3 separate regions of the Homo sapiens genome follow, and regions 1 and 2 are each linked to region 3. The links come from fine-mapping of genetic effects on gene expression. A gene starts in region 3. Each other region holds a variant in brackets. All regions are shown on one strand. Distances are from middle to middle.

What was found.
Region 1: its variant is fine-mapped to the expression of KL in whole blood (TOPMed, PIP 0.98).
Region 2: its variant is fine-mapped to the expression of KL in whole blood (INTERVAL, PIP 0.95).

Annotation. Positions count from the first base shown.
Region 1 is chr13:33,038,939-33,047,125 of GRCh38, forward strand. The region is part of intron 1 of KL (klotho); the gene reads left to right. Among named protein-coding and RNA genes, the nearest start is that of KL, 27 kb to the left of the region's middle. The variant A/G (reference allele first, on the strand shown) is at 3,195.
Region 2 is chr13:33,127,398-33,135,584 of GRCh38, forward strand. It overlaps STARD13 (StAR related lipid transfer domain containing 13), which reads right to left. Exons shown (of 14, transcript NM_178006.4): 5 at 1,532-2,892; 6 at 1-149. Among named protein-coding and RNA genes, the nearest start is that of KL, 120 kb to the left of the region's middle. The variant T/C (reference allele first, on the strand shown) is at 3,545.
Region 3 is chr13:33,012,661-33,020,847 of GRCh38, forward strand. KL (klotho) reads left to right here and starts at 3,763. Exons shown (of 5, transcript NM_004795.4): 1 at 3,763-4,599. The coding sequence starts at 3,781. It overlaps LOC124903151 (translation initiation factor IF-2-like), which reads right to left and starts at 3,793. Exons shown (of 2, transcript XM_047430819.1): 1 at 3,176-3,793; 2 at 192-975. The coding sequence starts at 3,782. The coding sequence ends at 785. RefSeq lists enhancers at 3,367-3,942, 3,943-4,520, 4,729-4,788 and silencers at 3,799-3,868, 4,559-4,658.

The DNA.
Region 1 (8,187 bases), 26 kb after region 3:
ACATATTTCGTTACATAAAAGTCAGAAAATCAGAGAAGCAGAAGAACATAATAAATGCCCACTGTCCTACTCAATAGAGACTATAACTGCTATCTCTGTACAAATCCTTTAAAATCCTGTCTTATGTGTATTTATTTTACATCTGTACATATGATTCCAAAATTAGGTAATACTGTACGTGGTCTATCTATAGCTAACTATAGTTTGTAATTTAATAAGCTATATTTGTCCATGGTGATCATTTATTGCTCATAAAATTAATAAATTATAATTTATTTATCAACACTGATCATTTGTTGCTAATAATTTATTTCATTTAATGTCTTATTCCTGGGTTATTTTAACTAATCCCTATTGTTAGCCCTTTAGGTTGTTTCAACTAATTTAAGAATTATAAATGGCCCATAGTAGTTACTTAATAAATATTTGAGTGAAAGGATAAATGAATGAATAATTCCACATTATTGGATGTTCAAGTTGTTTCCATTCAACTTTATTGTTGTGGGGGAGTATAATACAATCTTGGTGAAGAGCCACCAACTTAGGAAGAACTATGAAGAAGCATGTTATTTACTCCTGCTTGTGGGTGGGGTGCATTGGGAAAGGAATGCCTAAATGCACGTGGGGAGCCAAACAAGACTTCACAGGGGAGATGGGAATTGAGCCAAATTTGGAAGAAGTGAGAATTTTCAGTTGATAATTGGGGAAGATAGTACTAAGAGTAAGTGGGGTTCATTAGGAACTACTTCTTAGAAGAGGCAAGTCCAGAACAGAAGGCAGAAAGGGATATGGATATGAAGGAAAAGTAGAATGCAACTTCAGGGCTAGTAGGTTGGCATCCAACGTAGGTACAGCCCTGGATGAGGAGTAATGAGAAACTGACCTGGCTGTAGCAAAACAGCTAGGCTGGGAAGTGATGCTGTTTACATTTATATGCGATTCTACTGGTCTTCCTGTTACTTTGTAGAAGACTGTAAGGCTTGGTGCTCAGAGCTAGAAATGCAACTTATTTGATTTGCTAAGAAGTCCAAAGCAGGTAGGGGTGCCAAGCTGCTGCCTGTTCACACATATTCGTCTAACTGGGTGTCAGGGAAAGCAGATATGAGCCCCCTTGCATTGGTTAAATCCTGAGCAACTTTTAAGGAACTGCACACAGAGACTACTGGCTATTTTTTGTGGATAAAGTTGTAGATAGTTATTTTTGGGAAATTATTTATGTGTTCTATTAGGTGGTTGTTTTGTGGGAGGCTGTTTGAAATTCTGTCTTAAGGAACTGCAGCTTATAAACCATAGTGCTGATAGAAATAAGAGAAATAATTTGGTCTGCGAGCACAAACATCAGGCTAGTTGGCATGCTTATGTAAACACCACACAGTAGCAGTGACTTTTAAGGAAGTCCTCAGACAATGTAATCCCAATACTCTTCTTGAAGTTGAGGTAATAGGGTGCCAGAAAGAAAAAGAAAATAAATCTCTAGTGCCTTCTAAAATTTTTTCAATCCTTTGACCTTTTTGAAAACGGTCACCTTTAATTCAGAACTAAAGTAACATCTGGAGGGCCCTTTTCTTAGATAGGGAGAAGACATAAATGAGCTATTTGAATTATTTTCTGCTTATGGGCTGCATTTCATTTCTTCCACCATTGGTCTCAGTCCATTTAATTAAGATTATTTGTAGGATTAAATTAATCCTTTAAGAATTATTCCATTTCAATTTTTAAAAAATCTAATGAATGATAGATAACAAAAAGCGGTCCATTCAGTATTACCCCTGAAACATATTTGGGTGATTGGTGATACCATCCATGTCTCTCCAACTTCAGCTTCATATACTCAGCTGAGTACCAGGCATCTTCATTGAAAGCTAGACTTGTGACCTAAATAGAACTTGATCCCTTCCCTTCCCCAACTCCTTATTTTTTGTTTTCTTTGAGTTCCTTGATTCCTCTTCCCCTCCTCACATGCAACATGTAACATCCAATTCATCAGCAGGTTCTACAGATTCTGCCTTCAATAATAGCCTAAATCTAGCCACTTGTTACTATCTTTTTTGGTCCAAACCATCATGATCTTTTGCCTGGACCATTGCAATAGTTGTCTAACTGGTATCCTTGCTCCCATTTTGTCCTCCTAGATCCTATTTTCCACGTAGTAGCCACTGATTTTTGGAAACTTATCAATCATTACCCAGACACAATGAGTACATTTACATAGTTGTTTGATTCCATTTACATAAAGTCCCACAATCACTCTATGTACTGGGAATCACAACAGTGGTCTCCTATGTTGAGAATTGATTAAGAGTCACAAGGAAACAAGGAGTAATATTCCATTGTATTAACAGACCACACTGTTCATACATTCTCCTGTAAATGGACATTTATGTTGTTTTCAGTTTTTTTGCTATTGTGATTAAAGCTATTAGGTTGGTGCCAAAGTAATTGCAGTTTTTGCCATTACTTTTTAAATGGCAAAAACTGCAATTACTTTGGCACCAACCTAATACTGTAAGTATCTTTGAACTTACCAATCAAACATTACTACAACACTTGAATAAGAAACACTTCCATAGCATTTACAATTCTAAGTGCTTTCCATGTATTGACTTAGTTAATCCTCACAAGGATATAACCATGAGGTGCTATTACTATCCCTACTTTACAGATGAGGAAATAGAGGCACAGACTTCAGATAATTTGCCCAAGGTCCCACAGCTAATAAGGGGGCAGAATTAGGAAAGCCTGGCTGAGTCTATGCTCTCATCACTTGCTCAACTCTGCCTGGAATGCCCTTCCCGTACCCTCTACCGCCTCTGCCCAATCCTCCGGGTTCTCTGCTCCTTCCACACACCCCCATCTCAGGTCCCAGTCTTTTTTAGCATTCTTCACTTTTTCTGTTACAGATCCTCAGACAATGCTTCCTTGAAGAAGACTTGCCTGTCTAAACTGCCTTCCCATCCCAATCCCTGTTACCTTCTATCCTTTCTCTGCTTTGTTTTCATTTGTTATCTCTCTTCTTCCCAAGAATGTAAGCTCCATAAGAACAGGATCATATTTTGAATCCCCTAGAAAAGTGCCTAGTGTAATATTTGTTGAATGAATATGATCCCTGCAATTAAAAGCTAAATATATATATTTTTTTAACTAACAGATTACTGTAGTAGTTTCAAAGATGAATTTATGTTTCGGAGAAAATC[A/G]GTATTCTCTTGCCACATAAATTGTAGGTAATTATATTTCTATACCTGAATAGCTTTGCCAATGACTAAGATATTAATCTATTATATATTTATTAATCTATAGATCTTTAAAATTGATGCACATGTTTTATAAGCAATTTGATGAATTTTGATGACTACATACACCTGTATGTGTATGGATATCTGTAACAAATATCCAAGTAAAGATATAGAATATTCTCATTACCCCAGAAAGTTTCTTTGTGACTTCTAATCAATTCTCACCTCCGTAGGAAACCGCTGTTGTGATTCCCATCACCACAGACTGATTTTGGGACTTTATGTAAATGGAATCAAACAACTCTGTGAATGTACTCTGTGTCTGAGTTCTTTCAATCTACACAATCTTTTTGACATTAATCCATATTACTGCCTAGAAGAGTAGTTCACTCTTTGCATTAATGAATAGTATTCCATTGTATAAACAAACCACACTGTTTATACATTCTCCTGTGAATGGACATTTGTGTTGTTTTCAGTTTTCTGCTATTGCGATTTAAGCTACTATAAGCATTTTTTTTTAATTGTGATGGGGTTTCGCTCTTGTTCCCCAGGCTGGAGTGCAGTGGCAGCGATCTCAGCTCACTGCAGCTTCTGCCACGTGGGTCCAAGCGATTCTCCTGCCTCAGCCTCCCGAGTACCTGGGATTACAGGCATGTGCCACCACACCTGGCTAAGTTTCGTATTTTCAGTAGAGACGGGGTTTCACCATGTTGGTCAGGCTGGTCTCGAAGTCCTGACCTCAGGTGATCCACCCACCTCGGCCTCCCAAAGTGCTGGGATTACAGTCTTGAGCCACTGTGCCCGGCCAGCATCTTTGAACATATCAATTTGTAAGTTTTATCTTAATATTGTACAAGTCTTTTGGGGGGCTTATGTTGTCATTTCTCTTGGTAAATACCTAGGTATGAACTTGCTAGATTATAGAGAAAATCTATCTTTAATTTTATAAGAAACTGTCAAATAGTTTTCCAAAGTGGTGGTACTATTTATACTCCCACCATCAATGTATGAAATTTCCGTTGTTTTACGTCCTTGCCAGAATTTGTTGGTAGTCTTTTTTTTTTTTTGAGGCAGCATCTCACTGTGTTGCCCAGGCATACAATGGTGTGATCTCGGCTCACTGCAACCTCTGCCTCCCAGGTTCAAGGGATTTTCATGCCTCAGCATCCCAAGCAGCTGGGACTACAGAGGCGTGCCACCACACCCAGCTAATTTTTGTATTTTTAGTAGAGATGGGGTTTCACCATGTTGCCCAAGTTGGTCTCGAACTCCTGGCTTCAAGTGATTCGCCCGCCTCAGCCTCCCAAATTGCTGGGATTATAGGCGTGAGTCACTGTACCCAGCCTGTTGCCAGTATTTTTAGTTGTAGGCATCTTAGTGGGTGTGAGTGCTCGTTGGGGTTTTAATTTGCATTTTCCTGATAGTGTTGATGTTGAGGACATTTCTATGTGTTTACTGAGCATTGGTGAAGATTCTCTTGTGAAATATCTATTCAAATATTTTGCTCATGGTGGGAAGGGGAGTTATTTTTCTTTTACTACTGATAGGTAGGCTTACGTATTTATTTCGGATATAATTATTTTGTCAATTATATACTAATCATAAACAAAAACTGATAAATTGGACGACGTCAAAATTAAAACCTGCTCATCAAATGTTAGCGAAATGTAAAGGCAAATCACATACTGAGGGGAGATATTTTAATATATGTATATTTATATAGTGCTTTCTGTGTTCTAAGAAGTATTTTCCTACTCCAAGATAAAGAGACTATTCTCTTACATTTTGTTCTATAAGTTTTATAGTTTTAGCTTTTAGCTTTGGATCTATGATCTGTCTCAAATTTTTATGCAAGATTGGGGTTTAATTTTTTCATACACTTTTCCAGTTGTCAAGGATCATTTGTTGAAACGTCTTTCCTGTTGCCACATAATTGCTTTGATGCATTCGTTAGAAATCAGTTGGCTGTGGGTTTATTTTGGAATTTTCTGTTCTGCTCCTTTGATGTATTTGTCTATCCTTATGCCAATATCACCCTATATTAAATAATTATAGCTTTATAATAAGTCTTGAAATCAGGTAATGTGAATGTTTCAACTGTGTTTTTCCTTTTTCTAGTTATTTTAGCTGTTTTATGTTCTTATTGTATATATTTTAGAATCAACTTATTCATTTCTACAAAAAGTTTATTGGGATTCTGGATGAGATGGTGTTGATTCAGTAGGTCAATCTGGGGAAATCTGATAACAATATTGACTCTTCCAATCCATGAAAATGGTATCTCATTCTTTATTTACATATTCTTTAATTTCTGTTAGCAATGTGTTATAATTGTAGCAAACTTGCACATCTTTTGTTAAATTATTTTCTAAGTATTTTACGATTTTGGTACCACTGTAAGTGGCATTGTATTTAAAATTTATTTTCTGTTTGTTTTCTGTTCATATATAAATGCAATTGATTTTCTTTTTTTTTTTTTTTTTTTTTTTTTTTTGAGACAGAGGCTTACTTTGTCACCCAGGCTGGAGTGCAGTGGCGTGATCAGCACTCACTGCAGACTTGAACTCCTGGGCTGAAGGGAGCCTCTCACCTCAGCCTCCCAAGTAGCTGGGACTATGGGTGTGAGCCAGTGTTCCTGGCCAAATGCAGCTGATTTTTGTATTGACATTGTATTCTGCCAACTTGCTAAATTAACTTATTCGTTTTAATAGTTTTTCTGTTTTTTTAAAAATCTTAGGATTTCTACACAGACAATCATGTTTTTAATGAACAACAAAGTTTGTTTTTTTGTTTGTTTGTTTTTCCCTTTTCAATCAACATGCCTTTTATGTTTTTATTTGCCTTACTGCACTGGCTAGGACCTCCAGTACAATTTTAATAGCAATGGTGAGAGTGTTTAAATGTACTCCTGTGTATATTTTATTCTTTTGGAACTTATTATAAATGGAATTGTTTTCTTAATTTTCTTTTTGGACTGTTCATTGCTATTGTACAGAAATACAACTGACTATTGTGTGTTGATCTTGTACCTTGCAATTTTGCTGAAATCGTTTATTTTTTGCAATAGATTTTTGTGAATTCTTTAGGATTTTCCATATGTAGAATCATGTTATCTGTGAATAGGGATAGTTTTACTTCTTTTCTAACTTGGATAGTTTTTTCCTTCCTAATTGCTCTGGCAAGAACTTCTAGTACAATGTTAGAGAGCAATAGTGAAAGCAGGCATCTTCCTTTCAATCCTGATGTTAGGGGTGAAGCTCTCAGCCTTTCACTGTAATGTTGGCTGTGGATTTTCATAATTTTTTGTTTGTTTGTTTTTTTGTTTGAGACGGAGTTTCTCTTGTTGCCTGGGCTGGAGTGCAGTGGCGTGATCTCGGCTCATCACAACCTCTGCCTCCTGGGTTCAAGCGATTCTCCTGCCTCAGCCTCCAGAGTAGCTGGGATTACAGGTGCCTGCCACCACACCGACTAATTTTGTATTTTTAGTAGAGACGGGGTTTCTCGATGTTGGTCAGGCTGCTCTCGAACTCCTGACCTCAGATGATCCGCCCGCCTCGGCCTCCCAAAGTGCTGGGATTACAGGCATGAGCCACCACGCCCGGCCCATAAATGCTTTTCTTAATCATATTAAGGAAGTTCCTTTCTAGTCGTAGTTTTCTGAGTGTTTTTATTATGAAAGACTTTCAGATTTTTGTAAAATGCTTTTCCTGCGTTAATTGAGATAATCATATGGGTTTTCTCCCCCTTTACTCTATTGATGTAATGCATTACAACGATTTTTTTTAATGTTTACCCATCTTTGCATTCCTGGAATAAATACTAGTTGATTGTGCTGTATAATTCTTAAAATATGCTGCTGGATTTGTTTTGTTAGTATTTGGTTGCATTCTTTTGCATCTATATTCATAAGGGATATTGATCTGTAACTATTATTTTCTTGTGGTGGCTTTATCTGGCTTTGGTATCAAGATAATGCTGGCCACATTGGCTAAGTTAGAAAGTGTTCTTTCTTCTATTTTTTGAAGAGCTTGAAAAGAGTCGTGTTAATTCTTCTTTAAATATTTGGTACAATTCACTATTAAAGCCACTAGTCCTGGGCTTTTCTTAGTTTGAAAGTTTTTGATTACTAATTCAATCTCTTTTACACCTAGATTAGATTTTGTATTTTTTCCTTAGCCACTTTTGGTAATGTGTGTGCTTCCGGGAATTTGGCCAGGTCATCTCTGTTATCTAATTTGCTGGCATCCAAATGTTCATAATGTTCTCTTGTAATCCTTTTTATTATAGAAATGATATACAGAAAAGGTCAGTTACCACTTTCTTTTATGATTGCATTAATTTGCTTCTTTTCTCTTTTTTTCTCTAGTCAGTCTTGCTAAAGGTTGGTCTGTTTTGTTGATTTTTTTCAAAGAACCAACTTTTGATTTTGTTGATTCTATAATTTTTCTGCTCTGTATTTTGTGTATATCCATTCTAATTTTTATTAGTTCCTTTATTCTGTTAGCTGTGAGTTTAGTTGGCTCTTCTTTTTTATTTTCTTAAGGTGGAAGACTAAGTTATTGAGATATATCTTGTTTTTTTTTTTGATGTAGGTATTTAAAGCTATAAAATTTCCTCTGAGCATTGCTTTTGCTGCAATTTATAAGTATTGGTATGTTACATATTCAGTTAGTTTTTTATATACACATTTAAGCTTTTGCTAATCTACCTTGTGATTTCTTCATTGACTTATTGCTTGTTTGAGTGTGTCAACAATTTCCACGTATTTGTGAATATTCTAGTTTTCCTTTTGTTATTGATTTCTAGTTTCATTTCATTGTGGTAAGAAACAATACTTTTTATGATCTCAACAGTTTAAAATTTATTAAGACTTATTTTCTGGTCTAACATATGATCTATCCTGGAAAATGTATCATGTGCACTTGAGAAAAATGTATATTCTGATTTTTTT
Region 2 (8,187 bases), 110 kb after region 3:
TGGAGTGCTTCTCCATGATGGCCGTGAGGCGGAGCAGTGAGAAGCGCTGGAGCAGGCTCAGCTGGCTGGCCGTCTGGCTGCTGATGTGGGGCGATGCTGGGGCCGGCCGGGGCTGGTGCGACAGCTGGAAACTGTTCCATCGGAGTCGCCTTTACCAGAGAGACCATCAGAGAAGCCAGTCACAAAGTGGACTTGGTAGCGGGAAACACGGGACATCACCAAGGTACACGCAGCTAATCAAGATAGCAGCCGAGCAAAGAAAATCGCAAAGCAAATGGAACAGAAGACACAAGTGTGCAGAATAAACATAGGACATGATTTTTCCAAGTCAGATAAATCTGGAAAAAGTCTTATTATCCATTTTATTAGGGGGTTTAAATAAGTGATAGAGGAAATATTATGTTTGTTTATTCCAAATTTGTTCCCAAAGTGTTGAGAGCAAGCTGAGACAGTGTGTGTGTGAGTGAGTGTGTGTGTGTGTGTATGTGAGAGAGAGAGAGAGAGAAACAGAGGGAGAGAGAGAAACGGAAAGAGAGGAAAGAGACGGAGACAGGGAGATATAGACAGAAGCAGAGAGAGCAGAGAGATAGAAAAGAGAGAGACAGATGTAGATGGAGAGATGGAGAGATGAGACAAAAAGAGATACAGAGGCAGAGGATGGAGAGACAGACAGAGACAGAAAGATAGAGACAGAGCAAGAGACAGAGAGAGGGAAGACAGAGATAGAGCAATATAGACAGAGGACAGACAGAGGTAGAGCGATAAAGACAAAGAGAGAAAGAGAGAGAGATACAGACAGGGAGCAAGAAACAGAGAGAGAGAGAGGGAGAGAGCTGTCGAATGTCTAGGGCTGTAGAAAATTTTCTCATTGTCTTCCATGTGTCTACACTCTATATCTTGCTCAGTATTGAGATGGAGCCCGAAGATGAGAGGTACAGAGGTGACACATCACTGAACCACAAGACACACCCTTGCCTCAACCAGAAACCCAGCAGCACAGGGCCATTTTTCTATGGTGCTTCTGAAACGGTCTTTGTAGGTCAGCTTTGATGTACTTTGTAATTGGCACTTTAAAGCAAAAACAAACTTGCAGAGTACACATCTTAGGCCTCAGAAATTTCTTATAGGAGCAAAAAAAGTGTAAAATTTGGGGAAGAGACATTTTGATGAACGCATCACAGGAAGGTCAGGGGAAGAGTCGGTGCCTAGGAACTGGGTATTGGTTATCCAGGATTCCCTGCCTATGGTGCCCAGTATAACGCTTTGCACATAAGAAGCTCAAAATATTTTTGGATAAAACTAGGAACAAAATAAAGGATAAGCACAAATAAATATGAGTTCACATGGATTCAATCACCATGATACCTGTACAGAAGTCATACTTCTGTTCAAATAATTCCTAATCACATACATCACTTAGAACAGAGTCAGGCATTTAGTAAGTACTCTGTGTATGTTTGTTAAAGAAATAAACAGAACACAATTACTATGAAATGGATGAAAAATCATTTCACAAGTGCATGCCACCTACCTGTTTGGCCTGGTCAGAGAGGCCCCTACACCAGAATCCCTCCTGTCTCTGACCCCAGGAGGCTCAGATTCATTAAGAGATGTTACATCTCTTTCCACATCACTGGGTGTCGTCCGACCTTCTGAGACAGAGTTACCTTCAAAATCTAAGGTGATCTGATTAGGAGATGGAAAGGTGGATAAGCCAGGTTCCCCAACCAATGTATCATGAGTTTGCAGTTCAGGCAAGACATCTTTGGACCAGTCATCGACTACCTCTTGGAGCCCATTGACATGCTGCAGAATGTCATCCAAGTGAGGGAAAAGGTCATCTTTCTCCAAGTCCAAAAGATCTCCTGTGCTGGCATACAGATGGGAGCCAGGGACATTGTCATAGATACTGACTCGGCTGGCTCTGTGGCAGGACGCCATGAGCCGGGGCTCCCTGGCACCAGGGACCTGCTCTCTGCCCAGGGAGATGCTACCGGTCCTCCAATTAACCCCATTGCTACTATCTGTGGGAGAGAGGCTTTCAATAGAAAGTGCCTTGGGGAATGTTCCTGGTTTGTGATCCTTGGGAATATGCACCACCAAATTCTCTTGGGAGTGAAATTCATGCATACGGCTTTGGTCCCCTGCATCCGGCAGTGCTGTCCCCGCCAGCACATCTAGGTCCTCCAAGTACATGCCCCCGCGCTTGTTGGCCTCGTGGCACTTGCGTTCCTTCAGGCAGGGCGTGCTCACCCCGCTGCTGCTGTGCTCCGACGGGCTGCTCTCGCCACTCGACTTGCCAGAGCATGGGAGCCCTTTTCTGCAGGCAGGTGGCGGCGAATTCTGGAGATCTCCATTTGGTATTTGGATGCACTGCATAGCCTTAAAGGACTCTGGCTCCTGCTGCAACATGGGCCCACTGATCACCAGGCCACCTGTCCGCCCAGACCCCTTATGCCTCCCGTGGGCTCCCTTCCCTCGGAGTGTTTCCATGCGTTTCAAAAATGATTTGGCCCTAGCCCTCGTGGGCTTCTCATTCTTGGGGTGGAAGGGGTGGTTGAGGACATCTCTGGGGGGCTGTGGGAGGCTGCTGCTGACGAGTGGGGCATCCAGCATGACCGGGTTGTCTGTACAGCACTGGCCCGGCTGGCTGCGACTGTCGCTGCCTCCACTGCTTTCGCTGTGAATGGAGCAGACCTCAGGCTCGCTCAGGTCTGTGAGGACGCTCTCACTGCTGGTCGTGTTCCTCATCCCCGTGCCTCCCGGTGACCCATTTCTGTCTCCTCGAGGGAGCAGCGTGTAGAGGTCGTCCACACGAGACCACCTGCGACTGGTTCTTTGGAAAGTCCATTTGTTGCTGATACAAAGATCTTCCTCATCGGAGTCGTCACCCTGCAGAGCACCAAGGAAAATGCTCATTAGCAGACAGCGTGGCTGAAGCAGGAACTCTGGGTGCTCTGAGGGCAGCCCTGTGTGGTCCTCCACCTCCCTCCCCTCTGTCCTCCCATGCACAGGTGTGAGCTTCTTGGGCACCTCTAAGCTGTCCTTCTACCACTTGCACTGTCTTGTACATACCCTTCCTCCCAGTGGCCAGAGGACCCTTCTCAACTTGCCAAACTTTCTTCCTTCCCATTTTCAAAGAGGTTTTGAATGCCTCCTTCCTTCCTCTCTAAGAAGTTTTCCCTGACTGATTATAAAGAGGGTATAATTACATCAGACTAGACGGTCTAAATATAAAGCACCTGCAGTCTTCTTTTTCACAAAGGAACTCAACTCTGCCATAAAAGGCACTTACTTCTTTCCAGAAACCTCTTCACTGAGCCCCGGGGACCATATTTCCAGCTTGCCCCATCTGAATCTCAGCTTCAGTATATCTCAAAGCTAACACTCCTTATTTTAGTCCCCTGCACTTGATTCTTATCGTGTATTCCCTGGATAAGGTAACAGCAAAATGAACCACTGAATTTCTTTAAGTAGAGATGAGGGAGCCATTCTGGAGATCGCTATTTGTGATCCAATCCGGCTACTCTGCATGAGCGTCTTT[T/C]TCTGTGGAATCAACTCCGAGTCAGAATGCCGTTGGCAGGACGCACACCTCTGTGTGGCTGCAGTGGGTCCCCGCGGCTTGGCACTGTCTTACACTTTGGGCCTCACACATTGACTCTAGGTGTCTGGTTTCTGCCTGAATTTGCAGCCCCTGAGAGGGGAGCATCTGCATTCCCTGAGGCCAGAGATGGCCTGGTTTAGCTTTGCATAGCCTTGGGCCCAGCGCAGACCTTGACCTAGAGCATATCATTTCCTTCTGAAATAAACTGAATCATCGGATCCTGCTTCATCCTCACCAAGCACATCACCAAGACCTAATTCTGAACTGATTTTCAAATCTGTTCCCTCATTCGTAATTTCACTCTCATTCTCTTAGTGTAGGCCTTGCCACCTCTCTCTGGATCTGTTACAGTAAAAATGTGGGAGAAACCCTGTCTCCAGCATCTTCCCCATCTAAATAGCTTTCCACAGTGTAGTCCAAATCGAATCATATGATTTTTTTTTTTCAGCTTAGAAGCCTTCTGCTTGAAAGCCTCCACTCTCAGTTGTTACAGGTGAAGTCATCAAGAGCCGGGCCTGCTACAGTGAGCCGTGATGGCACCACTGCACCCCAGCCGCAGCAACAAAGTGAGACACTATCTCAAAAAAATAAAAAAGAGCAAGACCTGTGTTTCTCTGTTTCATTATTCATATAAACATATTTATTCATATGTATAGCCTGTCCAATGCCAAGGACATAATAATTGCTTATTTTTTGTGAATTGAATTAAATTTATTTTACTCTACCTGGGTGTTCAGTTTTAAGACCTGGTTCCAAGTGTCAGTGATACCAGTTAAGAGCTAGGTGACTGTCCACAGTCTACTTACCCTCTCTAAAGTAAGTTTCTGCCACTTATAAGATTGAAGCGGGTCTTGCCTCATAGGTTTGCTGAAGAGAATAAAGAAGGTAGTGCATTCAGCAGTCCCTCACTGAGAGGTATTTGCTTATTTGTATCTTTCAATGTTTGTTCAATTGCCTACTAATCTTTTTATGTATCTAGCGTCCACTTTAACTCCCTTTAACCTTGCAGTGTGTTGTTTTTAAGGAAACCTAAGCAGATGCACAGTTAATCATTGTGGGGATCCTCCTATTCTTGTTTATTCCTTCAAAATCTAGTTTCCGTGTAGGTTTGACTAAATGACAAACTTGAACATTCAAGTTTAAAGTGAAAGCGAGTACAAAGCCAAGGTACAGAAAAGAATTCTATGGCTTAGAAGTCAGGTGCGGTGGCTGATACGGTTTGGTTGTGTTCCCACCAAAATCTAATCTTGAATATTGTAGCTCCCATAATTCCCATGTTTTGATGTGTTATGGGAGGGACCCGGTGGGAGATAATTGAATCGTGGGGGTGGTTCCCCCATACTGTTCTTGTGGTAGTGAATAAGTCTCATGAGAGCTGATGGTTTTATAAGGGGAAACCCCTTTTGCTTGGCTCTCTTTCTCTCTTGTCTGCCGCCATGTAAGATGTACCTTTTGCCTTCCACCATGATTGTGAGGCCTGCTTACATGAAACTGTGAGTCCATTAAACCTCTTTTTACTTATAAATAACCCAGTCTCAGGTATGTCTTTATCAGCAGCGTGAAAAATGGACTAATACAGTGGCTCACGCCTGTAATCTCAGCTACTTGGGAGTCTGAGGTGGAAGGGTCTTTTGAGTCTAGGAGTTTGAGTCTAGCCTGGGCAACATATCAAGACCCTGTCTCTTAAAAAAAGGAAACAAAAAGAAACAAAAAAGAATCCTACAGCTTGAGATCACAGTGAAAAATGAGTCTGAGTTTTAAAAAAGTTGTATAAAGCTCTGATGAAAGAGTTTAGAAAGTTGTAATTGTACAAGTGGAAAAAGGGCAAGACTCCAGAATGATGACTCAAAATATACTTTCCTACTAGTACTTTCTACTCCCTCTTTTCCTGTGATTGATATAATGAAAACTGACATATGAGGGTCATTTATACACAAGGTGCCATGATAGGCTGAACGTTGAACTTATTGGATTTTTGTATTGCATTTTAGGAAGCTAGTGAGAAGTTGATATTAAATAAGGACTATGAAAAAGCCCTTTTAGCAGACAGTTTTTGAGAAGACAAAAAAAAAGGATATGACTTTAAAGAAAATATAGATATTTTAAAACAGAAACTACAACATTTAGTGTTGGCCCCAACTACCTCTCTCAAACCTGGTTATGATGCCAGCACACCACATACTAGTTGGATAGGGACTCCTTTATTTAGGTTAAGAACACATGCCAAGCTGGGCACTGTGGCCTGGGAAGGGAAAGCCTGGCCCTGTCTGCTGGTCTCTAAGAGCTTATTATACTCACTTTGGCCAACAGGAAGATATTTACAGCCCAACTAAGGCATGTGAAAAAGTGGCAAACTCCTGGGAAAAAAGGAAAACAGCTCAGGGAAATTTTGCAGTATTTAGGTTGTTTGAACCAAAGCAAACAAACAAAAACCAAAGCAATAGAAAGCAAAATGCAACAGAGAAAAAAAACGACCAGTCTTCTTTGGCACCCTGTGCCTACAACGATCATGGTATGTTCCAAAGGGTATTGAAATGGTTGTGTCTGTTTCTTTCACTAATGATGGATATTTCAAACTATTTGATAGTGACACACAACAAAAAATGTATTTTCCATCACAACTCAGGGCATGCATACAGACTATACTAAAGCAAAAAAAAAAAAAATTTATGCTTAAGTAATTATCCTTGTTTGTTTGTATTCTGATACTTTTTAATCTAGTTTAGCCTATTTTATTTTTTTAAATGTTGTTTGTGATCCACCAAATTCACTTGACAACCTACCAAGGGGCCATGATCTGCAGTATGAAAAACACATTGCAGTAGAGTTTAAGGTTTTTTTACGCACTTGGGACCCAGCAGAGCATCAGGCACATTTCAGACTCTCCAGTGGTATTTATGGAAGTGTACTGATTGTTTAAAAGAGATTATCAGATTTCATCTGTTTGATAATTTTTGAGGTTAACAATGAATAGTTTGTGATTATTTAGAAATGTAAAATGGAAATCTCTAGGAGTCAGATGTGTTTATAAAGAAAAGGATACATCAAACTAACTTTATTCTCCTGTCTCAGAAACCATGGACGTACCAGGGACATGGAGCATCAGAATTTCAGCAACACAACTGAAAATAGGTTCCCACGTTGTGGACAATATGGCTCACTAGCTAGATGCTACACAACGGGGTCCAATCTTTTGGCTTCCTTGGGCCATATTGGAAGAAGAAGAATTGTCTTGGGCCACACATAAAACACACTAACACTAATGATAGTTGATGAGCTTTAAAAAATGGCCAAAAAAACTCATAATGTTTTAAGAAAGTTTATGAATTTGTGTTGGGGCACATCCAAAGCTGTCCTGGGCCACATATAGCCCGTGAGCCATGGGTTGGACAAGCTTGCTACAGAGAGTTTTGTCAGTAACTGGTTGAGTAACTCCTCTAAAGCGTGTGACTAAAAGACTGTAAATAACTGAAGGAAGCATGTCTCAAGGTTATGATCATTTTAAGAGTAACTTGAATGGGCCGGAACTCCTGTTTTTAAACTGTAAAGATGGTATTAGGCTATTTGCTAAGGGTTCTTTGAGACTCAGTTTTCAGAGTTAGAAAATGAAAACAATAATAACACATGTCTAGCATGATTTATCAACAGAACCAAATGGGACTATATGTGAAAATACCATATAAACCCTAAAGTGGTAGATGAAACTAGTTATTGTTGTTAGAGAATAGCAATATTGAGAAGTGTGTAGAGCTTAACAGAAGTGAAGGATGACCTGTTAATAAGATAAAATTTCATAAAAGTAAAATATAATGACTCTAACTTCAAAAATCAATTACAGGATCTTCAGGATAAAACGAACATAGTTCAACAGCCCTTCCTGCTATTAATAGTCTTGAGAGTTCTGGCAGATGTAAGCTTAATGTGACTTAACCATGTAATATGGCTACTGAACAAAGACACCAACCTTAGGATGCATGACCAGAGCATAGATCCCAAGACTCAAAAGGTCAGTGCCCATTGCATTCTGCACTGGTCACATATATCAGGAACAATGGGTTCTTTCTAAGCGCTCCACATTTTAAGGGGTACATTTCTAGAGAAGAGTAATCAGAATGGCCAAGGATCTAAGAACCACAACCTCCTGGGGTGGACAATTGAAAGAACTAATAGCTTGATTTAGAAATGAGGAACTCTAGACAGTGCTACTCAGAGTGTGGTCAGGGGGCTGCCAGTCCCCAAACTTGCTCTTTAATGAGGTAGATACAGAAATTGAGAGTAAGAAGTAAAACCATTTGTCACCATTTGAAAAGTCTGTGCTATCTGAGCTCACAATCAGTGGATTTGTCTTACTGAACAGGGTAAAGACCAGTCTGGGTGTAGTCAAATTCAAACGGTGAGTCCTATGAGTGACAGCTGCATGGTACTGGTGTGTGGTCAATCTGATTTACAACAAGTGCCAATTCAAGGTTAGTTTGCTTACCATAAACCAAAGTGTATAATGTACAGAATCCACTGTTTCACAGGTAATTTACATTTATAACTTTATAATTATAAGAATTGGCTAGAGATGAAGAACTGAAGAT
Region 3 (8,187 bases):
CTGCCACCATGTTGGTGAATTTTTGTATTTTTAGTAGAGACAGGAGTTTCACCATGTTGGCCAGGCTGGTCTCGAACTCCTGACCTTAGGTGGTCCACCTGCCTCGGCCTCTCAAAGTGCTGGGATTACAGGTGTGAGCCACCACGCCCGGCCAGATTTTAAGTCTTCTTACCACAAAAAAAATAAGTATGTGAGGTAATACATACGTTTATTAGCTCAATTTAGCCACTCTACAAATGTGTATATATTTTAAAATAACATGCTGTACATGAAAATATATATAATTTTTTGTCTGTTAAAAATTAATTAATTAATTAATTTTAAAAAGAGGAGGGCAGGGAATACTTGTGTATTTTGTTAACTGGACAAATGAAACTCTACTTTCATTTGCTCATTAAACAAATACTTGTTTTGTGCTCAGCATGATTCTAGGCACTGGGACTACTGCATTTTGGTCCATTACTTCCTTGCGCACAAAAACCCTTTCTTTTCACCACGAATACACTATGAACATGTTTTTTTCTTCAGTGTTGGCATCTCTTGATTCCTTCCCTCCAGGTCTTTGTGCGAGTTTTACTCTTTAAACCCCAGATATTGTCATATTTTTCTCTGTTAAACTTTTCCAAACAACTCAAAATAGGGTAATTTCTTCTTCTTCTGAATTTCTCTGACAATTATTCTATGGGTCATTTATTAACACAGCATAATCAAACAACTTATTTATTTTCATCTTTCTTGATCCTTTCTTCAGTTGGATGTTGTCTTTGAGGGCAGAGGTTGTCCTCTATGTTTTGAAGTCTCCACACAGCTCGTCGTTGCCTTGCCCGTAGTTGTAGCTCAGTGAAATAAAAATATGTCCGTAGAAGGTGATGTCTGTGACTGGTGAGCTGAGAGCTTGTGGGGTTGGTGTTGTATTTGGGTGCATGTGAATCAGTGCATCTCCTGCTCCATTGGTGTTAAAAGGCTCCCATCGTCCTGGGAACACAATAGGAAAGAGAACAGGTGGGAAGGCACTGGATGAAGGAATGTGGAGAATGGAGGAAAAGTTGATCAGATTGTTGACAACTTTCAGTGTTGAAATTGTCACCAAAATCAAAGTCAGTAAATAAATTTACAATGTCCTTTTCTTCAATGCATCAATAACTTCACCTTCCTGTTCAAAGCACAGCAAGTAATTAATCTCTTATTTGCATTTGAAACCCAAGTTTCAGATGTTTGAAGGTGGTTGTAAAAAATAAAAACCAAAATAAAGCCAAAATAAATAAGCAGCAGCACTAGGCCGGGCACAGTGTCTCACACCTGTAATCCCAGCATTTTAGGAGACCGAGGTGGGTGGATCACAGGAGATCAGGAGTTTGAGACCAGCCTGGTCAGCATGGTGAAACCCTGTCTCTACTAAAAATACAAAAATTAGCCAGGTGTGGTGGTGTGCCCTTATAATCCCAGCTACTGGGGGGCTGAGACAGGAGAATTGCTTGAACCTGGGAGGCAGAGGTTGCAGTGAGCAGAGACCATGCCACTGCACTCCAGCCTGGGCGACAGAGTGAGACTCCGTCTCACACTTGTGGAACCCAGAACTTAGTAACCATGAACAGAACCTTAATAAACAGAAAGTTCTGGAAATAAAGTTTAATCATCATGCAATCTTTATCACTGGGTTAAATGAACAATCATCTGGGAACATGTCTTGGAATGCTTAAAGCTTTGAGATGCATGTGCCTATGTGGCAGACAAATTTCAAATGTGAAACGTTTAGTTAACTTGGTCTTGCTTTTTAATCACTGCTTTAAAATTTAAAAAATGCTGCTGGTCAAGTAAAAATAGCAATAGATAAAATCTGCCCTGAGCAAACAGACCATACATCAATAAATGAATACTTAGCTTAAGCGATTTTCCATGAGACCCATGAAGCATTTCTAATTGAAACTTAACAAGCTACAACCCAACAGACACTCCAATCTTCACTTCTAGAAGGGAAATGTGATACTCCATGTAGACGTAGCTTTTTAAATTTAGCTGGAAGACAGCGTGACAGTGAAGTTGTGTGCTGTAATTTTTTAAAATTGCTGAAGTGTCATGGTTTGCTATTTCGTATTTATTGAAAAAATGTAAATGCTATATTTAACAGAATGGCAGTAACTCTGTTTCAATCTGAAGACTTAATCTTACTAATCATGGTAATATATGCTGGCTGGAGTTGGGAATATTTCATAAAATACTGGAATAAATTTGTGCTTATATTTCAGGGGAATTAATAAAAGCACCTTCATCTGCAACATTTAAAATGTTATTGCCTTTAAATTTGTATTAAATAATGCAGGGAAGATAGATCACTGGGGGAGAATGGATGCACCTCTGTGAGGATCTTGGTCATTCAACACACGTGTACGGGTGAGGAAACTAAGGCACGACTTACTGGGTAGGGAGGTAGGGATATTAGCAAGATCCTTCACTTGTCTGGGCTTTCTGTCTTTGAGTCACCTTTGCGCAGTTTTTCACTGGACTTCACAAGCCTCTGAGGCGGCAGGGCAGACAGGACATCCTTATTTTATAGAGGAGGAAACTTAGGCTTACAGAGGTTTCCTGCCCCAAATCACAAAGGTGGAGCCTAGACCTTCTCAGTCTCCACCAACTGTATTTCGGTTAGCCACAATCCTATCTACCCACATCCAAATGGACACTGTGGCTCTGCAACTTCTGTCAAAAGGGCTCTTTGGCAACAGGAAAAACGTCATGGCTCCATTGTATTGTAGAGGATGGGAATGGGTGTTCCGGCTAAATTCTCCCTCCCCTTTCCCTCCACAGCTCAGATGGCAAATGTGCGACCCAGGGACCTCCCGCTCCAGCAGACCTGTGCGCACAACTTTGCACAGATTACCTGCTAAGTCAGAGCCGAAAGGTAACACAGATGCCAAAGGATAATAAAGGTGAATGAGATTTACTCAAAATTGGAAACTTGGTGTTTGGTTTTTCAGGAGAACAATCAACGACTGTGATTTGAAGTTCACCAGGGTATTCTGAGAGATCTAATCAAAGATAGAGTGCTGGTTTGAAATTATTAAAAGGTAACAGTAAAAGGGAGAGCAAAACCCCAGTCCCAACGCAACCCATAAATCTACTTTGTCTTCCTCGAAAGAGGGGCGCGGGTGGGCGCGTCTCCCCGCGAGCATCTCACCTAAGGGGGAATCCCTTTCAGCGCACGGCGAAGTTCCCCCTCGGCTGTCCCACCTGGCAGTCCCTCTAGGATTTCGGCCAGTCCCTAATTGGCTCCAGCAATGTCCAGCCGGAGCTTCTTTGGGCCTCCGAGTGGGAGAAAAGTGAGAGCAGGTGCTTCCCCAGCGGCGCGCTCCGCTAGGGCCCGGCAGGATCCCGCCCCCAAGTCGGGGAAAGTTGGTCGGCGCCTTTTCTCCCCGACGAAGCCGCTCCAGGGCTGCTCTCAGAGGACGCGCGGCAGGCAAAGAGAATGAACCTGAGCGTCCACGAAACGTCCTGCACGGCTCCCGGGAGCTGGGAGAAACAGGTGCCTTTCTCCGACGTCCGCGGGCGACGCCTGCCGCACCTTGCCCGCTGCCGCGCCCCTCCCGGGCACCCCTCGCCCTCGGCGCCCCTGCCCCCGCCCCCAGTGCCAGGGCGGAGGCAGTCCCGGCTCGCAGGTAATTATTGCCAGCGGAGCCCGCCGGGGAGCGGGGGTGGGCGCGCCGGCGGTGGGCGGGCGGGCGCGGCGGGGCGCGGGCATAAAGGGGCGCGGCGCGGGGCCCCGGAGCCTGGCTCCCGCGCAGCATGCCCGCCAGCGCCCCGCCGCGCCGCCCGCGGCCGCCGCCGCCGTCGCTGTCGCTGCTGCTGGTGCTGCTGGGCCTGGGCGGCCGCCGCCTGCGTGCGGAGCCGGGCGACGGCGCGCAGACCTGGGCCCGTTTCTCGCGGCCTCCTGCCCCCGAGGCCGCGGGCCTCTTCCAGGGCACCTTCCCCGACGGCTTCCTCTGGGCCGTGGGCAGCGCCGCCTACCAGACCGAGGGCGGCTGGCAGCAGCACGGCAAGGGTGCGTCCATCTGGGATACGTTCACCCACCACCCCCTGGCACCCCCGGGAGACTCCCGGAACGCCAGTCTGCCGTTGGGCGCCCCGTCGCCGCTGCAGCCCGCCACCGGGGACGTAGCCAGCGACAGCTACAACAACGTCTTCCGCGACACGGAGGCGCTGCGCGAGCTCGGGGTCACTCACTACCGCTTCTCCATCTCGTGGGCGCGAGTGCTCCCCAATGGCAGCGCGGGCGTCCCCAACCGCGAGGGGCTGCGCTACTACCGGCGCCTGCTGGAGCGGCTGCGGGAGCTGGGCGTGCAGCCCGTGGTCACCCTGTACCACTGGGACCTGCCCCAGCGCCTGCAGGACGCCTACGGCGGCTGGGCCAACCGCGCCCTGGCCGACCACTTCAGGGATTACGCGGAGCTCTGCTTCCGCCACTTCGGCGGTCAGGTCAAGTACTGGATCACCATCGACAACCCCTACGTGGTGGCCTGGCACGGCTACGCCACCGGGCGCCTGGCCCCCGGCATCCGGGGCAGCCCGCGGCTCGGGTACCTGGTGGCGCACAACCTCCTCCTGGTGAGTGCGAGGGGCCAGGCGGAGGGCCACGCAGGGGAGACAGAGGGCCTCCACAGGGGCCAGGGGGAAGTGTGGGAACTGAGTCTCCCCCAGACGAGGCTTCACTTGGACACGTGTATGTGGTCACCGGGGGAAACTGAGCAGTTCTGACTTCCCTTGGAAGGCGTGGAATTAGGAGAGAAATCCCTTAGTGGGCACACGAGTGAGTGCCCCTTGGAGTCCATCTGTGGAAAGGAAGCGGTGATAGGTTTCCGCAGTGAGGAAAGAAACTCCTTTCTCTGGGTGTAGAGGAATTCCTAGAGGTGAGGGCGGGGAGGATTTGCTAGGAGTAACTGCAGGAAGAGAATGAGCAGGGTGGATGAAAGAAACACGTTTGTTCTTAAGCCGCACAGATAGCATTACTCTCTGGAGCTGTCACGAGTTCAGTGTTAATCCAATAAGATCTGTCTTGCTTGTGGCACAAGTTCACACTGTTGTGAAAGTGTCAAAACACAACTCCCGGAGAGTCAGATTTAAACTGTGTTTGGAGGTCCCTTCTGCGGCAGGGCAGGGAACTGCATCCACCAATCTTATTCACCGGGGTGTGAAGACCGCTTTATACAATCTCAAACAAAGCTAGTCATAGAAACACAGAAACAACTGCAGGGTGATATAGATTGTTCTACCACATCTATATTTCCACAGTGCTCTCTACAGTTGAAAGGGTTCCTCACTTATGACATTGTTAGCCTGATAAAATTAATTGTAACACCCTTGTGCAAAATATTTTATTAATTTTGACAGCAGGAAATATTGCTATGCCATGGTAAAGTTGTCTCAAGTATTTCTTCCTCCTTTTTTCTCCTTAGTGTTCAAATTTAGGCACCATTGTTTTGGGGATTCATTTATAATCATGTCAGTTGTTAGTACACTTTGTACAGAGTTTTGTATCACAATAAAATATTTTATGTACATGTATAAACATTTTAATAAAAGTGTTTAAATGTACAACTTTTGGTACCCAATTCTGATCACTTGTGGGCCTACTGGAAGACTTATTTTTAAATTTAGAATTCAGCCACATATTCTGAACAAAGTCAGTACTAAAACCATTTCTAAACACTTTTAATTAAAGCCATAGATAATATGGGCAGAGCAGTACTGGGTTATTGAGGTGACTTAGTGCTCTGAGCTGCTGGTAATGTTGTAATAATGGCTAAATTAGATTTTATGTCAGTTCCACAAAACCTGTTTGCTGCTACTGGCCATAAAAGAATGTTGGATTTGTTTGGAAACACATTGTGATTTTTGTGATTTCATACTTATGTATGTCTTTTCATAAGGATGTTTTAGAGCGGTGATTCTTATACTTTTTCAATCCTTTTATGGATCTGAAAAACTCTAAAGACCACCAGTGTATGGCTGGTGATAGAAAAACTATGGGAAGAATGGTCTCACTTTTTGAAGAAAACATAAGCAAGTTATCAGTTCATACTGGAAGCAAATAAATGGATCAGCTGGAGGATCTAATAGATCATGCCCATAAAATCTTTACTTTAGATTTAAATCCTACAAGTTCTATTTTTAGAGTCCCTAGGATAAACTTGCATATACAAAGTAGTCAATTGTTATTATAGTGACTTATAGGATCATTTTATTATAAGATAAAGACTTGCGTGCTCTCTGGTGCTCTGGTGTTTTAAATAATCAACATGTTTTAGATCTTTTTGCCCACTCATGGCCCTCTGATTAACTTCTCAGTTATATTTTTCAATGCTTACACAAAAAATTTGCCAAACACTAACCATCCTTCCTAGAAATGCAGTGGACTTTGTATTTAGGGAAATTAGTAACAGGTGAATGCTCCATTTGCTGATGTTGCAAACAAACTGTTAGTTGGTGTAAAGTATTAATTTTGCTTTCACATTTCTTTTGGTTTGGTGTTTAGTCATTCTTGTATCTTATTTAGAAGCGAGTTCCCATTGTCAAAGAAAGTATCTTGAATTAATTTTGTTGTATGAGATACTTTCATTCTGTTTTCAATGACCTTTCTCGGTGTGTATATAGGGGTTGGGGGAAGCGAGAATAGAAAAATTTGAGCTTACCTGAAAAAGATAAAACATTCTGCAGATTTTGATAAAAGGGCATTTTAGCTGGGGCTTAGATATTGCTGCTGTACAGATATAGGGGCCAGTTGTGTTCCGGGATCTGATGTTGGTGAAGGATAAAGACTGGCTAGCACCCTTCCCTCACTCCCTCTGTGTTTCCACTAACTTACAAATGGGCTAAGGAGATCCCCTGGGATGATGGGAAGCTTGACCCCTCCTAGAGAGTCAAGAATCATTGATGGCCTGGAGGACAGGAGGCAGAACAAACAAACAGCAGGACAAATAATGGAGGCCCTGCTCAGAATGGAGGTCTTGGTGTTCTTTGTGGGTTCCTCATACTGGAGTGAGCCTTGGCAAAAATGGTGTGTGTGTGTGTGTGTGTGTGTGAGAGAGAGAGAGAGAGAGAGAGAGGAGACAGAAGAGAAGGAGAAGAGGGGAGAGGGGAGGAGGGACAGAGAGAGAGAGGTCTCCTACAAAGAGCTTGGAGCTCAGGCTGCTTTGCTCATTTGAGTGTAATCCAGGAGGATGCACCTTTTCTCTCGGACTTGAAGACCAACTGCTCAGCCTTCACAGCTCTTGAAACAAAGTTCTTAATGTCCCCTGAAATCAGCACTAGGGACTGTAGTTGGGGAGTTCAGCCCCAGCAGTGCCTCTGAGTCTTTGTTCTGTATATGGGTTCTAAGAGGATTAGAATCAAGTTGGAAATACACGTGTTCCCATTTCCCACCTTCAACTCCCCTCACCGCCTGAGATTCTTGCAAACATTTGTGCAAGGAACCTGTGAAAAAGACTTCTTTCACGTAAGGAAGTAGGGCTAGGAGATATTAATCTGGGCATTGTTGAGCATTAGCATCAGTGTGCAGGTCTCAGCCCATCTGTCTGCAATGTTTGTTGAAGCCATCACTTCTTGTCCCTTGAATCCTTCCTCAACTTGGATTTCAGGCCCTGGCTCTCCCTTGCTTCTCCTCTCAGCTCCCTGGCGATTCCCTCTTAGTCTCCTTTGCTTGTTCCTCCTCACCTTGCCTGTAAATAGTGGAGGGCTCAGGGCTCTGTCTAGATTCACTCCAGGCCATTGCTTTGAATACTGCTGCATCCCGATGACTGGAGATTTTGAGTCTCCACCCAGGTTTCCCCGAGCATCAGACTGGCATAGACAACCGCCTTCTCCACGTGGATGTCTAATGGGCATGTCACATCGAACACATCCCAAACCAAACCCCTGCTTCCCCTTCTCTATTATGATGACTTTTTACTCTTCCAGTTGTTGGACCCCGAATCTTAACTACTCCCCTTTTTCATGTCTTGTTTCTAATCCATCAACAAATCCTGCAGCTCTACCTACCTCCAGGATGTGTCCAGAATCAAACCACTTCTCCCCTTATCTATGACTACGATGGAGGTGCAAGACACCATCCAACCTTGCCTGGGTAATGGGAACAGCCTCACTGCTGGGGTTCTTATTTCTGCCTTGCCCCCTGCAGTGTGCCATGATGGATGCTCT